Linked DNA regions of Homo sapiens. The protein of the gene in region 1 interacts with the protein of each later gene in a pairwise test. Each region holds a gene or a part of one and is shown in the gene's direction. Other genes may lie near its edges.

Evidence for each region.
Region 2: the proteins of KRTAP10-3 (region 1) and WT1 interact in a two-hybrid assay, tested with the Homo sapiens proteins (2 studies listed by BioGRID and IntAct).
Region 3: the proteins of KRTAP10-3 (region 1) and SDC3 interact in a two-hybrid assay, tested with the Homo sapiens proteins (3 studies listed by BioGRID).

What each region holds. Positions count from the first base shown.
Region 1 is NC_000021.9:44,557,204-44,560,879, reverse strand, and holds KRTAP10-3 (keratin-associated protein 10-3), read left to right. Parts: upstream 1-2,084; 5' UTR 2,085-2,164; coding exon 2,165-2,830; 3' UTR 2,831-3,090; downstream 3,091-3,676. UniProt on the Homo sapiens protein: In the hair cortex, hair keratin intermediate filaments are embedded in an interfilamentous matrix, consisting of hair keratin-associated proteins (KRTAP), which are essential for the formation of a rigid and resistant hair shaft through their extensive disulfide bond cross-linking with abundant cysteine residues of hair keratins.
Region 2 is NC_000011.10:32,428,815-32,432,558, reverse strand, and holds part of WT1 (Wilms tumor protein), read left to right. Parts: intron 1-1,745; exon of another isoform or gene 1,746-2,019; coding exon of another isoform or gene 2,020-2,029; intron 2,030-3,744. UniProt on the Homo sapiens protein: Transcription factor that plays an important role in cellular development and cell survival. Recognizes and binds to the DNA sequence 5'-GCG(T/G)GGGCG-3'. Regulates the expression of numerous target genes, including EPO.
Region 3 is NC_000001.11:30,881,118-30,884,861, reverse strand, and holds part of SDC3 (syndecan-3), read left to right. Parts: intron 1-3,744. UniProt on the Homo sapiens protein: Cell surface proteoglycan that may bear heparan sulfate. May have a role in the organization of cell shape by affecting the actin cytoskeleton, possibly by transferring signals from the cell surface in a sugar-dependent mechanism.

The sequences.
Region 1 (3,676 bases):
AGCTTTCTGATGTGGACATTTAGTGCTATAAATTTCCCTGTTAACACTGCTTTAGCTGTGTTCCAGAGATTCTGGGACATTGTCTCTTTGTTCTCATTGGTTTCAAATAACTTCTTGATTTTTGCCTTAATTTCGTTACTTACCCAGGAGTCATTCAGGAGCAGGTTGTTCAATTTCCATGTAGTTGTGTGGTTTTGAGTGAGTTTCTTAATCTTGAGATCTAATTTGATTGCACTGTGGTCCGGTAGACTTTGTTATGATTTCAGTTCTTTTGCATTTGCTGAGGAGTGTTTTACTTTCAATTATAAAGTCAATTTTAGAATAAGTGCCATGTGACACTGAGAAGAATGTATCTTCTGTTGATTTGGGGTGGAGAGTTCTGCAGATGTCTATTAGGTCCATTTGATCCAGAGCTGAGTTCAAGTTCTGAATATCCTTGTTAATTTTCTGTCACATTGATCTGTCTAATATTGACAGCAGGGTGTTAAAGTTTCCCACTATTATTGTGTGGGAGTCTAAGTCTCTTTGTAGGTCTCTAAGAGCTTGTTTTATGAAACTGGGTGCTTTTATATTTGGTGCATATATATTTAGGATAATTAGCTCTTCTCATTGAATTGATCCCTTTATCATTATGTAATGCCCTTCTTTGTCTTTTTTGATCTTTGTTGGCTTAAAGTCTGTTTTATCAGAGACTAGGATTGCAACCCCTGCTTACGTTGCTTTCCATTTGCTTGGTACATTTTCCTCCATTCCTTTATTTTGAGCCTATGTGTGTCTTTGCAAGTGAGATGGGTCTCCTGAATACAGCACACTGACGGGTCATGACTCTTCATCCAATTTGCCAGTCTGTGTCCAGCTATTATTTCTATGAAATAATATTTTTCCACTGTAGTCTGACTTTGCCAGGTAGTCCTCCAACAGAGCCCTTAGCCATACTCATCAAAGGTCAGAGGCTTCAAACCCTGCAGCCTATGGGCCCCCACCAAGCACTCAGTGGACCCCTGGCCTAATTTTGGAAAGCCCTGCAGCCTAGAGCATCATCAGAGCCTCTGCCTTTGCCATTTCAAAGATTTAGTAGAAAATAGCGATCATAGAGTGAGGAGATGAGGGATCCATGATCAGAACTTTGGGGGCTTACTAGCGCACAGGTATGGTCCCGGGCACAGGCATGGGCTGATACACACAGGTGTATAGGTATTTGTGAGACAAGGCTCTGCAATCAGACCCTTTTATTTGTACATTTACTATGACAATGTCCAGGAGCCAACAGTAGAACTAATACATTCTGATGACTTTCTGGCCCATAAGGGAAGAGACCTTGGAGCTCCCAAGGACACCATTGCAGGTGATGTTGCCCGAGATGTGAGAGGAGAAGGTGTGAACACTATTGTGCACACCACCGGGGGAAGGCCCCATAACAGTTCAACGTGAAATGAAACAAAGGTGCTTGCCCCTCATCTCCATCCCTACTGTGCTGGGCCTGCAGCTGCCTCCCTGCTCCCCTCTGCGAGCCAATCTCTGCCCAGGAAGACACTATTCCCTCACACCTGCCCCAGGGCTCACCCCCAGCAGAAATATGCCCCATGGTTCCCACTGACAACCAGCAGTGTCAACCCACAGGGTGGATCTCGCCGTGTGGCCAGGCCAACTGAGCATCTTCAAACTTGTCCACAGCAGAACACATCTCTCCCTTTCCTCAAGGCCCAGAAACTGAGGTTCTCCTAACCTCATCCCTCCTTAGGTGTAGAAGTCTTTTTTTAAGTGCAAACTCCTCCTGGGATGGAGCAGAGGGCTGTCAATTCCAGAATATCTCCTAACTGCCACTGTCCCTGCTTCTGCAGTGTGCTTTGATGCAATCAATATATTTCTACTAGTTTATCTCTGTGGACAAGCCCACATTAGGGAAGCCCTAACTCCAGTCAGGAGCCTCACAAACCAGAACATCCACAAACAATGAACCAACACTACTAACACAACAGTGCCTACAACAACAACAAGGAAGAGGAAGGCTTCTCGAAGCCAGGCAGGGGCAGCACAATCAACACAGAGGGGTATAAAGGTTCCGACCACTCAGAGGCCTGGCACGATCACTCACTCACTCCCTCACTCACTCCCACACTCACTCACTCACGTCTCCCCCAGCTCACCTCCTCCCCACCCCAGCATGGCCACGTCTACCATGTCCGTCTGCTCCAGCGCTTACTCTGACTCCTGGCAGGTGGACGCCTGCCCAGAGAGCTGCTGTGAGCCCCCCTGCTGCGCCACCAGCTGCTGCGCCCCGGCCCCCTGCCTGACCCTGGTCTGCACCCCAGTGAGCTGTGTGTCCAGCCCCTGCTGCCAGGCGGCCTGTGAGCCCAGCCCCTGCCAGTCAGGCTGCACCAGCTCCTGCACGCCCTCGTGCTGCCAGCAGTCTAGCTGCCAGCCAGCTTGCTGCACATCCTCCCCCTGCCAGCAGGCCTGCTGCGTGCCTGTCTGCTGCAAGCCAGTCTGCTGTGTGCCCGTCTGCTGCAAGCCTGTCTGCTGCAAGCCCATCTGCTGTGTGCCCGTCTGCTCTGGGGCTTCCTCTTCATGCTGCCAGCAGTCTAGCCGCCAGCCGGCTTGCTGCACCACCTCCTGCTGCAGACCCTCCTCCTCCGTGTCCCTCCTCTGCCGCCCCGTGTGCAGGTCCACCTGCTGTGTGCCCATCCCCTCCTGCTGTGCCCCTGCCTCCACCTGCCAGCCCAGCTGCTGCCGCCCGGCCTCCTGCGTGTCCCTCCTCTGCCGCCCCACGTGCTCCCGCCTCTCTTCCGCGTGCTGCGGCCTCTCCTCAGGCCAGAAGTCCAGCTGCTGACGGGCAGGTCCCGTTTCTCCAGAGTTGTTCCAGGGCCATCTCTGACTTCCGAAAATCCTTGCAGCCCTGAGCCCTGTCTGAGTCTCCTCTGCCCATAGCCACTGCACCTCCAGCCAGCAATGCTGAGCTTTCATGCCGATTCCCTCCAGGCATGCATCTCTCCCACACCCTCATCTCCATGCTGGCCAGCCGGTGGTCACTGTGTCCTGCCCCATGTGAGTGATCAGTCTGTCAACAAATAAAGTCACCAATGTGCCCTCTCAGAGGTCTTTTTTGCATATCTGGCAAACCCTGTGGGAAGAACTTCAACGTGCCGCGTGGGGTGGGAGCTTCGGGACTCTGGCCTTGAGCTGCATCCAGGCTGACAGCACCAGGGGCGGAGGCAGTCCTGACTTCCCGCTGTGCGGGGTCTGCTGTTGTGGGGTTCTCCTGCCAGCCTCAGCGTCTCCAGGCCCCGGGGGTGCTTCTCTGTGAATCCCCCACACCCACCCGGCCCGGCCTCTCCCTGGGCTCAGCTCCTCCCCCTCTCTCCTTCCTCTGCCTGTCTGACCCCCACTCATCATCTTCTCACCAGCCCTCTCTTATTAAATAAAATAAATATTTCTCATTCCTGGAAGACATTTTAGAGCTGATCTCTTATTTCAAATATCTGTGCACGGTCATCCCAATGCCTGAAGTCTCTGTGGGTCCATTTCAGCTTTCTGTCATTTCCACCAGTTCTCGCTCATGGTGTCGTTTCCTTGTGTGCTTCACTGTTTGCAGCTGAGTAACCACCTTTGTCCTTGGAAAGTATTTGTGGGCATTTTTGAGGCCTCTAAGACAGGTGTGTTTTCTTTTGCCTTATGT
Region 2 (3,744 bases), on another chromosome or scaffold:
ATATAGCCTGGAAGCACCATCTCCAGGTTTAAGTTTTGTCTTGCAGTGAAAACAGATGGGTCCATCTTACCCAGCCCTTGAGGCTCATTGGGCAGCTTGGATGTGAGAAGCGCTCCGGCTGCTATCCTGGAGTGGGCAAGGGTGGCCCTCGAGATTCTGGGTTTATTCTTTGGATTTCCAGGGTTCCTGCTGCTTCCCCAGGAATGCAGGGCCTGGCCCAAGACTTGGGCTGTGAGAGGCAAGGGCATCAACTCTCAAAAATGTGGAAATGGCCATCAGAGCGCCAAGGCCAAACCCCAGGGGAGAGGAATCAAGGCCGTCTCTGGATCCCTAGGGCAGTCTAGCCATGGTGCACAGGCAGGGGCAATTGTTGGTACCCACTCACAACCGCCCAAAACTTCACAAGCATGTTCATATTTTAAATTCTTAAATATTATATCTTGCATCCTAATCTTGTAAACATTAATTTAGCAAACATCAATCGCCTACTTGGTCAGGCACTGGGTTCTGAATATTAATTAAGACAATGGCCTCGAGAACCTTTGCAAGAAGCTCACCAGCTAATCCTGGAGAGGCCCCTTGTTTTGGATGAGGAAATCCAGGTTCTATGAGATTAGGTGGCAGAGGTGGGATTTGAACCCAGACCATGCTAGGGTGTTTCTACTCCTTTTCCAGGGATCTTGGCCCCACCGTTGAGATGGATTTCTTCTGGCCTGCGGGAGGGGCACCAAACTCTTAGTCCATGTGTGGGGGTTGACGGGTTTGTGAGGGCAGATGTGGGGTGAGGACTTGAGTAGCCCCAGACTAGATGCAAGGCTTAAGGAGGAGGGGAAAAAAGCTTGCTTGGGCCGGACGCGGTGGCTCGAGGCGGTTGGATCACCTGAGGTCAGGAGTTTGAGACCAGCCTGGCCAACACGGTGAAACCCTGTCTCTACTGAAAATACAAAAAAAAAAATTGGCCGGGCTTGGTGACGGGCGCCTATAATCCCAGCTACTCGGGAGGCTGAGGCACAAGAATCGTTTGAACCCGGGAGGCTGAGGTTGAAGTGAGCTGAGATCGCGCCACTGCACTGCAGCCTGGGCGACAGAGCGAAACTCCGTCTCGGAAAAAAAAAAAAAAAAAAGAGGTTGCCTGCTAGTCCACTGATCCCGCAGCCCCGCAGGCTCGCAGAACCCTAAGGCATGATTAGGCCTGGGATCATCAGGCCACCCTAGGGTCAGGTGCGGAGGCCTGCGACGCCCGAGGGCCAAAGGCTCCCTCTTCCGGTCACACAGGAGAGGGTATTTTGTTGGGGGACAGGTTTTCCCCAATCACAGTGCAGCTGCAGTCATCGTTTTCAGCCTTCTGAGCACCTTCCTGGCTGAGCCTGCTGTCCATTTCACCCCTCAGCTCTCACGGCCCGGCCAGGCCAGGCGGTTCCCGGCTTCTCTGCAGCCGCCGGCGGGGGAGGAGGGCACAGAGCGCGTCTCGCCTCTTAGCGCACGGTCAAGGTTGCGCTCCCCTCCCGGGCCGGGACTAACCGTGGGAAAGGCGCTACCTTGGCCACTCGATTCTCTCCCTCCAAGGCCTGTACAAGGAGCCTTTGAACACGCTGCTCCTTCCAGCCGGCAGCTTTACCTCCCCTGGCCCCTGCCCCCGCACTCTCCGCGCCAGGCCAAGCGCTGGGCCCAGGGACAGCGCGCTCTAATCAAACCCGTGTCCGATAAGCTTCTAATTAAAAGAGACCTCCCTCCGCTCCGCAGGCGCTTTCACCACTGCCCCTCCCGGGGGGACCTGAAGGAGAGGGTTTGAGGCCGGTCTTTGCCCGCCGAGGTCTGCGTGTCCGGTCTGGGAGGAGGCCTAGGAGGGCTCGCGGGCCACGGGCATCCTTGGGCCCGAGTTCTGGGGTGCGGACGGACGTCTCGAGAGTGGGTGCCGCGACTCGGGACCCACGGCCCTCGCCGGGCACGGACAGTTGCGGAGCAGGGCTCTGAGGATTGTGCAGTGCCCTGGGTCCCTGCCTACTCCTGGGCTCAGGAATGGAGAAGGGTTCGTCTAGAGAAAACTTCTTCGTAGCTTCTATTTCGTCTCTCTCTCTCTCTCTCTCTCTCTCTCTCTCTCTCCCTCCCTCTCTCTCTCTCTCTCTGTGTCTGTCTCTCTTTCTCTCTCTCTCTTTTTAGTGTCCTTTCAGAAATTCGGCCTTCACTCCGGGCAATAGTGGGTGCCCTGAGCCAAATTTCGTTTGTAAGCTCATCTATAGGCCTCAAAGAAGGCCAGGCCTCAGGTTTCAAAAGGAAGTCTGTGGAAGCCCAAACGTGCTCGCCCATGCAGGAGAGCTAACGGGGCCGGGGGTTATCTTTGCCCACTTAGCAGGAGAGAAATGGAGGCCCTCGAGGTCATATGATAAAAGCTAGTGGCTTCTCAAATCCCCAGTGTGTGGTGCTGAGCAGTGTGTGAGACTTAAGCCTGGACCTGTACTATCCGGGAGTTAGGATTTGCCCCCTCCTTCCCTCCCTTGCACTCTGCCACACCACCCTCCAGGCTCATGCCTCTGTTGCCCCAGAGAAGCTTTTTTTTTTTCTTTTTCTTTTTTTTTTTTTCTGGGCGGGGGGTGGTGGTGTGTGTGCATGAGCGTCCGTGTGTGTTTCGAAAATGGAGGTAACGATGCCCTGGGTCCTGCTCATCGGCTGAGTCCTGCTTAAGTCTTTGGAGGCACTTTGGTCAAATAGTGCAAGAGTGGGAGAATGGGTGCTGTTTGACCCAATTTACTCCTGAGAATTTTGTGAAGTTTGGAGACCCAGGGCAGTCCTGGGCCAGGAGGATCTGAGGCTGCTGGGGTGGCCCTGCCAGGATCCCATAGGAGCAGCTCTCCTTAGCCATTGTGTCTGGACTTCAGGCCACAGACTCCGGAACTTGTAGAGGAATGAGACCCCATCCTTGGGTTCCGGGGCCAATGACGTATCTTTAGCCGAAGGATCCTTTTCCCCAGAGGCAGCAACAGCTTTCCAGAAGCTTGTGGGGTATAAGTTTAAAGCAATTTAATAACAAAAATTATAAAAGACTATGTTTTCCAACTGAGGCTCCACGCTCTTTTTCTCACTTTGGGGGGGGGGGGGAATGCTAGGATTTCCCTAGGGGGAAACTGAGGCAAAGGACCGAAGCACTACCATGGAGGGAAAGGGAGATACAGTGTCAGGCACACTCTAAAGGAAATTGGTTGTCCAGCCTGGGGAGTGAGGAAGTTGGCTCCTACAGCAGTGGTCAGGGTCGGACCCCTGGGCGCAAGGTGGGTCCCATAGGGGGGAGGAGGAGGAGAGCGCAGGGTCGCCATCTGAAGGCCCAACTGGAAGGGGCCCTTGTTTTCCCCCTCACCAGCTTTCCCTTGGGTGTCATGGTGTCAGGTCGGGTAGCCCCAGACAGATAACATTACTCGGTAATTACTCTTCCCATTTTTAAGACCAGGCCATTTAACTGGCTCCGAGTAATTAATGAAAGTTGGTGCGCGGGCCCCTGATTTACAGCTCGGAGTCAACGCGGGGTTAGCCCAGCAGATTCATTTCGCTTGCCCGCGCTGCTCCTGCGGAAGAGCTGCAGTTTATTTTTGGGGGGTGAACAACCTTCTCTGTCGATCAGGCAACGAGTTTTATACTTAATTTGCCAGGGGTTCGCTGCAGAAGCGGCAGAGACCGTAGAAGACTGCGGCATAAATAAATTGGGAAAAAGCGAGGTGGGGGTTTTAGTCAGAAAAGGATGGAGAAGCCTGT
Region 3 (3,744 bases), on another chromosome or scaffold:
TGTCGTTCAGTATGTGGGTTATTTCCATTTTTTCCCTCTCGTAAATTACATTGTCCTGGATCTCCTTGACCTAAGGATCAAATTCTTGGGAGTCCAGAGTGTCAGAATCAGAAAGGCCCTTAGACCACCATGCTTGGTTTTCCATTTTGCAAATGGGGCAAAGGAAAGGCAGAGAAGGGGGAAGAGGATTTGTCCACGGTCTTGGAGGCTGTGGGCGCCTGAGCCAGGGCTGCTACCTGCTCTCCTGTTGGGGCTGGGGTGGGGATGTGGGTGGAGGCAGGTGCCACAGTGGGAAAAAGGGCATCCTGGGGGGATGGTGGGAACACAGGGCTGGGTAGAGGGCAGACTGGAGGTGACAGGAGAGATACAGGCTTGGGGTAGGGAGGGCTCTGCTGCCATGATATCTTTGCAGAGGAGTTGACTGGGATGGGACAGGCCCAAAGGGAACATTTCCTGCCCTCTGAGCTGCCTTTGTAGATGGGAGTAGGGGGTGGGGATAGGTTTGGTTTGTGAGAGGCTTGAGTGTGTGAGTTGGGGCGAGTGGGAGGGTGTGTGTCTGGGCTTGGTGGATTTTTCTTGGGGGGGGTCTGTGGTGTTTCAGCTTGGCCTTCTCTGCCCTCCCCATTCCACTCCTCCCCGGGCTTCTGCTCTCTGGGACTTGGGCTCCATAGCCCCTTCCCCAGCAGGTGCAGTCCTCGTGCCCCTCATCTCCAGCCACAAGTGGGTGTGGGACTGCCGGCTTCCTGGCCAGGGCAGCTGTGGCTGGGTGGGGGTGGGGACTGAGACATCCCCCTCCTGGTCCCGGCTCCCAATTGTGCAGCCCCCTTGGCTGTCTTGCTGCCCGGAGCTTGGCCCCAGCCCACATTCCTGCGGTGATGCTCTGGGTCTCCGGGGTGGATCTGGTGAGCGTGAGGGGCACTGAGTTCTCACAGGACTGAGGGCTTTTTGGGGACGGAGCCTGCAGGGATCCAGAGGGCCATGCTGAGACACCCTCCCTCCCTGCCTCGAGGAGCTAGTAGTTACGTCGCTGTGTGTCTTTGGGCAAATCACTTTACCTCTCTGAATGCTTCGTGGCAGACTAACCCCGCCCCCTCCTTTCGTGATAAGCAAGGCTTTCCCCTCTCTGTGCCTCAGTTTCCACATCGGTAAAAGGGGAGAGTTGAACTCAGTGATCCCTCAGGCCCAGTGTAGCCTTGAAGTTGCAGCCTGAGGTGGGAAGTGCAGGCTGTAGGAATATAGACAAAGCCTTATACGGCTCCGACTGTGTGCAGGCATGATCTCACTTGATTCTCACAACTGCCCTATGAAGTATCATTGTTGGCCTCATTTAACCAAACAGGCTCAGAGAGGTTAAGTAACACATCCAAAGTCACCCAGCAAGTAAGCAGAGCTGAATTTGAATCCAAGACTGTCAGAACCTAAAGCTGGGCCCCCACCCCTTGCTCATGTCGCCTCTGGTCACCAGGAAAGTGAGGCCTGAGTCTGGCTAATTAGGGGAAGGAAGCTCGGGCAGAACTAATTACACTCGATTTTATTCTTGGCTTTTTGCAACATGATTAGCGCTGCACAGGGGTGCCGGGCTCCTGGCCCCCAGCCTGCTGACCTAATTTGTGTGCTTGTGTCTGTTTCTGTAACTTGCCCTTTCTCCCCCTTCATCCAACCTCTCTCTTTTTGTCTCTCTCTGCACTCTCCCCTGCTGTGTGGCCTTGGCAATGCCACTTAACCTCTCCGGGCATTAATCGTCTCATCTGCCTGGGTGTAGTCATCCCAATTTGGCTTCCCTCATGAGGAGGTTGAGGCTTACATGAGATAAAGGCTTCGAAATAATAATAGAAATTTTAACATAAACTAACAGCAATCGTGGCTACACTGATTTATTCATTTTTCACTTGGTGTCGGGTCCTGTGCTTAGCCCCTTCCCACAGCAATGCTATGAGCTGCGTAGTCTTCTCATCATCTCCATTTTACAGATGAGAAAACTGAGGTGCTGAGATTAAATGGCTTGCCTGACAGCCAACCGGGTAGTAAAGAGGAGCTGGTTCATTATGCTTTGCCTCTGTGCTGACCGGTTTCTCTAGGAAGGCTCATGGTGGTGTGGGGCTGGGCACGAGAGACCCCAAATTCTGGAGTGGGCTCTGAGAGAGGATGGGGTGGGAGGGATGCACTGGCCTTCCTGAACGTGTCCCCTGCACTCAGAGTGAGTGATGAGTGGGTGGGTAGAGGTAGCCGTGAAAGTGAGGAGACTTAGCTGACATCCAGCTCATTTGGACCCTCACCCATCACAGCCCTGATGGGGTGCTCCTGGGAGGGAGGGGGCTGGGCAACCTGGGAGGTGGCACCTCCTTGCCCCTGGCCCAGGGGAGCCTCCCCAGCTGCTGCTCTAAAACTCTAGGAGAGGATCGGTGGGAGTGGATGTGGAGTGAGGGGGCCTGTGGGTCACTGCTGGGCCTGGTCCCTTCTGGGCTGGGAGCCTGAGGTGCCTCTGTGGAGTGAGGCTGTGGGTTACTTCAGGAAGGTGTGGTGACTAGGGGACTGTGAGGAAAAATGGAAGCAGGGGGCATCAGTCCACTAGGAAGGGTGCCACATTTCATCCCGATGTGTGTGTGCACTTGTGTGTACCCGGAAGGAAAGTGCGTGTTTGCGCGCATGTGTGTGTGGAGGGAACTGAGATGCAGGTATTGTGGACCTGTTAATGGCATGTGAGGCGGGATGTATGTCTGCTGGGGCAGGTTCAGGGAGGGACAAGTAGGCTGCGCACATGTGGAGGCAGGGTGTTGGGAGTGCCTGGTGTGTTGGGTCCCGTGCTCAGCCCCTTCTCCTGCAATGCTATGAGCTGCATAGTCTTATCACCATCGTGTGCTGGCGCGTGGGTGTGGATGTTGGGTGGGCATGGACAGCTGTGGGCATTGCCGAGTTGATGTCATGCAGGGGGTGAGGGCAGCTGCGGGGCACAGATGTATGAATTTAGCCCTGGACAAGCAATGGGTCTGGGGGTGGCTCAGGAATGTCCAGGACAAGGGTTTCAGAGACAGAGGCCTCATGCCTGGATTCTAACCCCTGCCTCAGTTCCTGCATCTGTGGAATGGGGATGATAAAACCCTGGGCAGTTGTGATGCTTAAAGGAGGCTGCATAAATAACATGCTCCCAGCACCTGGCCTGGGGCAGGCCCTCAGCAGCAGCAGGCAGAGGTCTCTAGAGTGCCCTGGGAACGCTCAGCGGCTCCCCTGGGACCTGATGCTCAGGCCTTCATGGGCCGCTTGCGGAGCCTCTGCTGGGTGTCCCCTCCCGAGATCAGTGGTGGCCGGAAGCAGAAGGTTCAGTGCTTCCACCGGGCACGCTCGCTGTGTGTGGGGGGTGCAGCCGAGAGGAAAGGTTGTATCCGAGTTGTGAGGTTCATGTCTGAGTCAGAGGATGCACCTGCCGAGGGTGATGTCTAGGAGCGATGTGTGTTTAGGGAACATACGTGGCCATGGCGGTGGGTCCGTGTTGTGGGCCTTGGTGAGGTGAGTGTGGTGCGTGGGGTCAGGAGAATGTGCTGAGGTTTCTCGGGGGCATCCGTGGGGTGTGTGGTGAGGAGAGGAGTGTGTGTGTGTGTCTGTGAGTACCCTAGGGCATGTGTACAGGCAGCTAGGGGTGAAGTAGATGGGTGAGTGTGTGCTGGTGTGGGCTGGGCTGTATTGCCTATAGGCTGTGGTGAGTATACAGATTGGTGTGGGCAAACATTGCACTTAATAGTGTGTGTG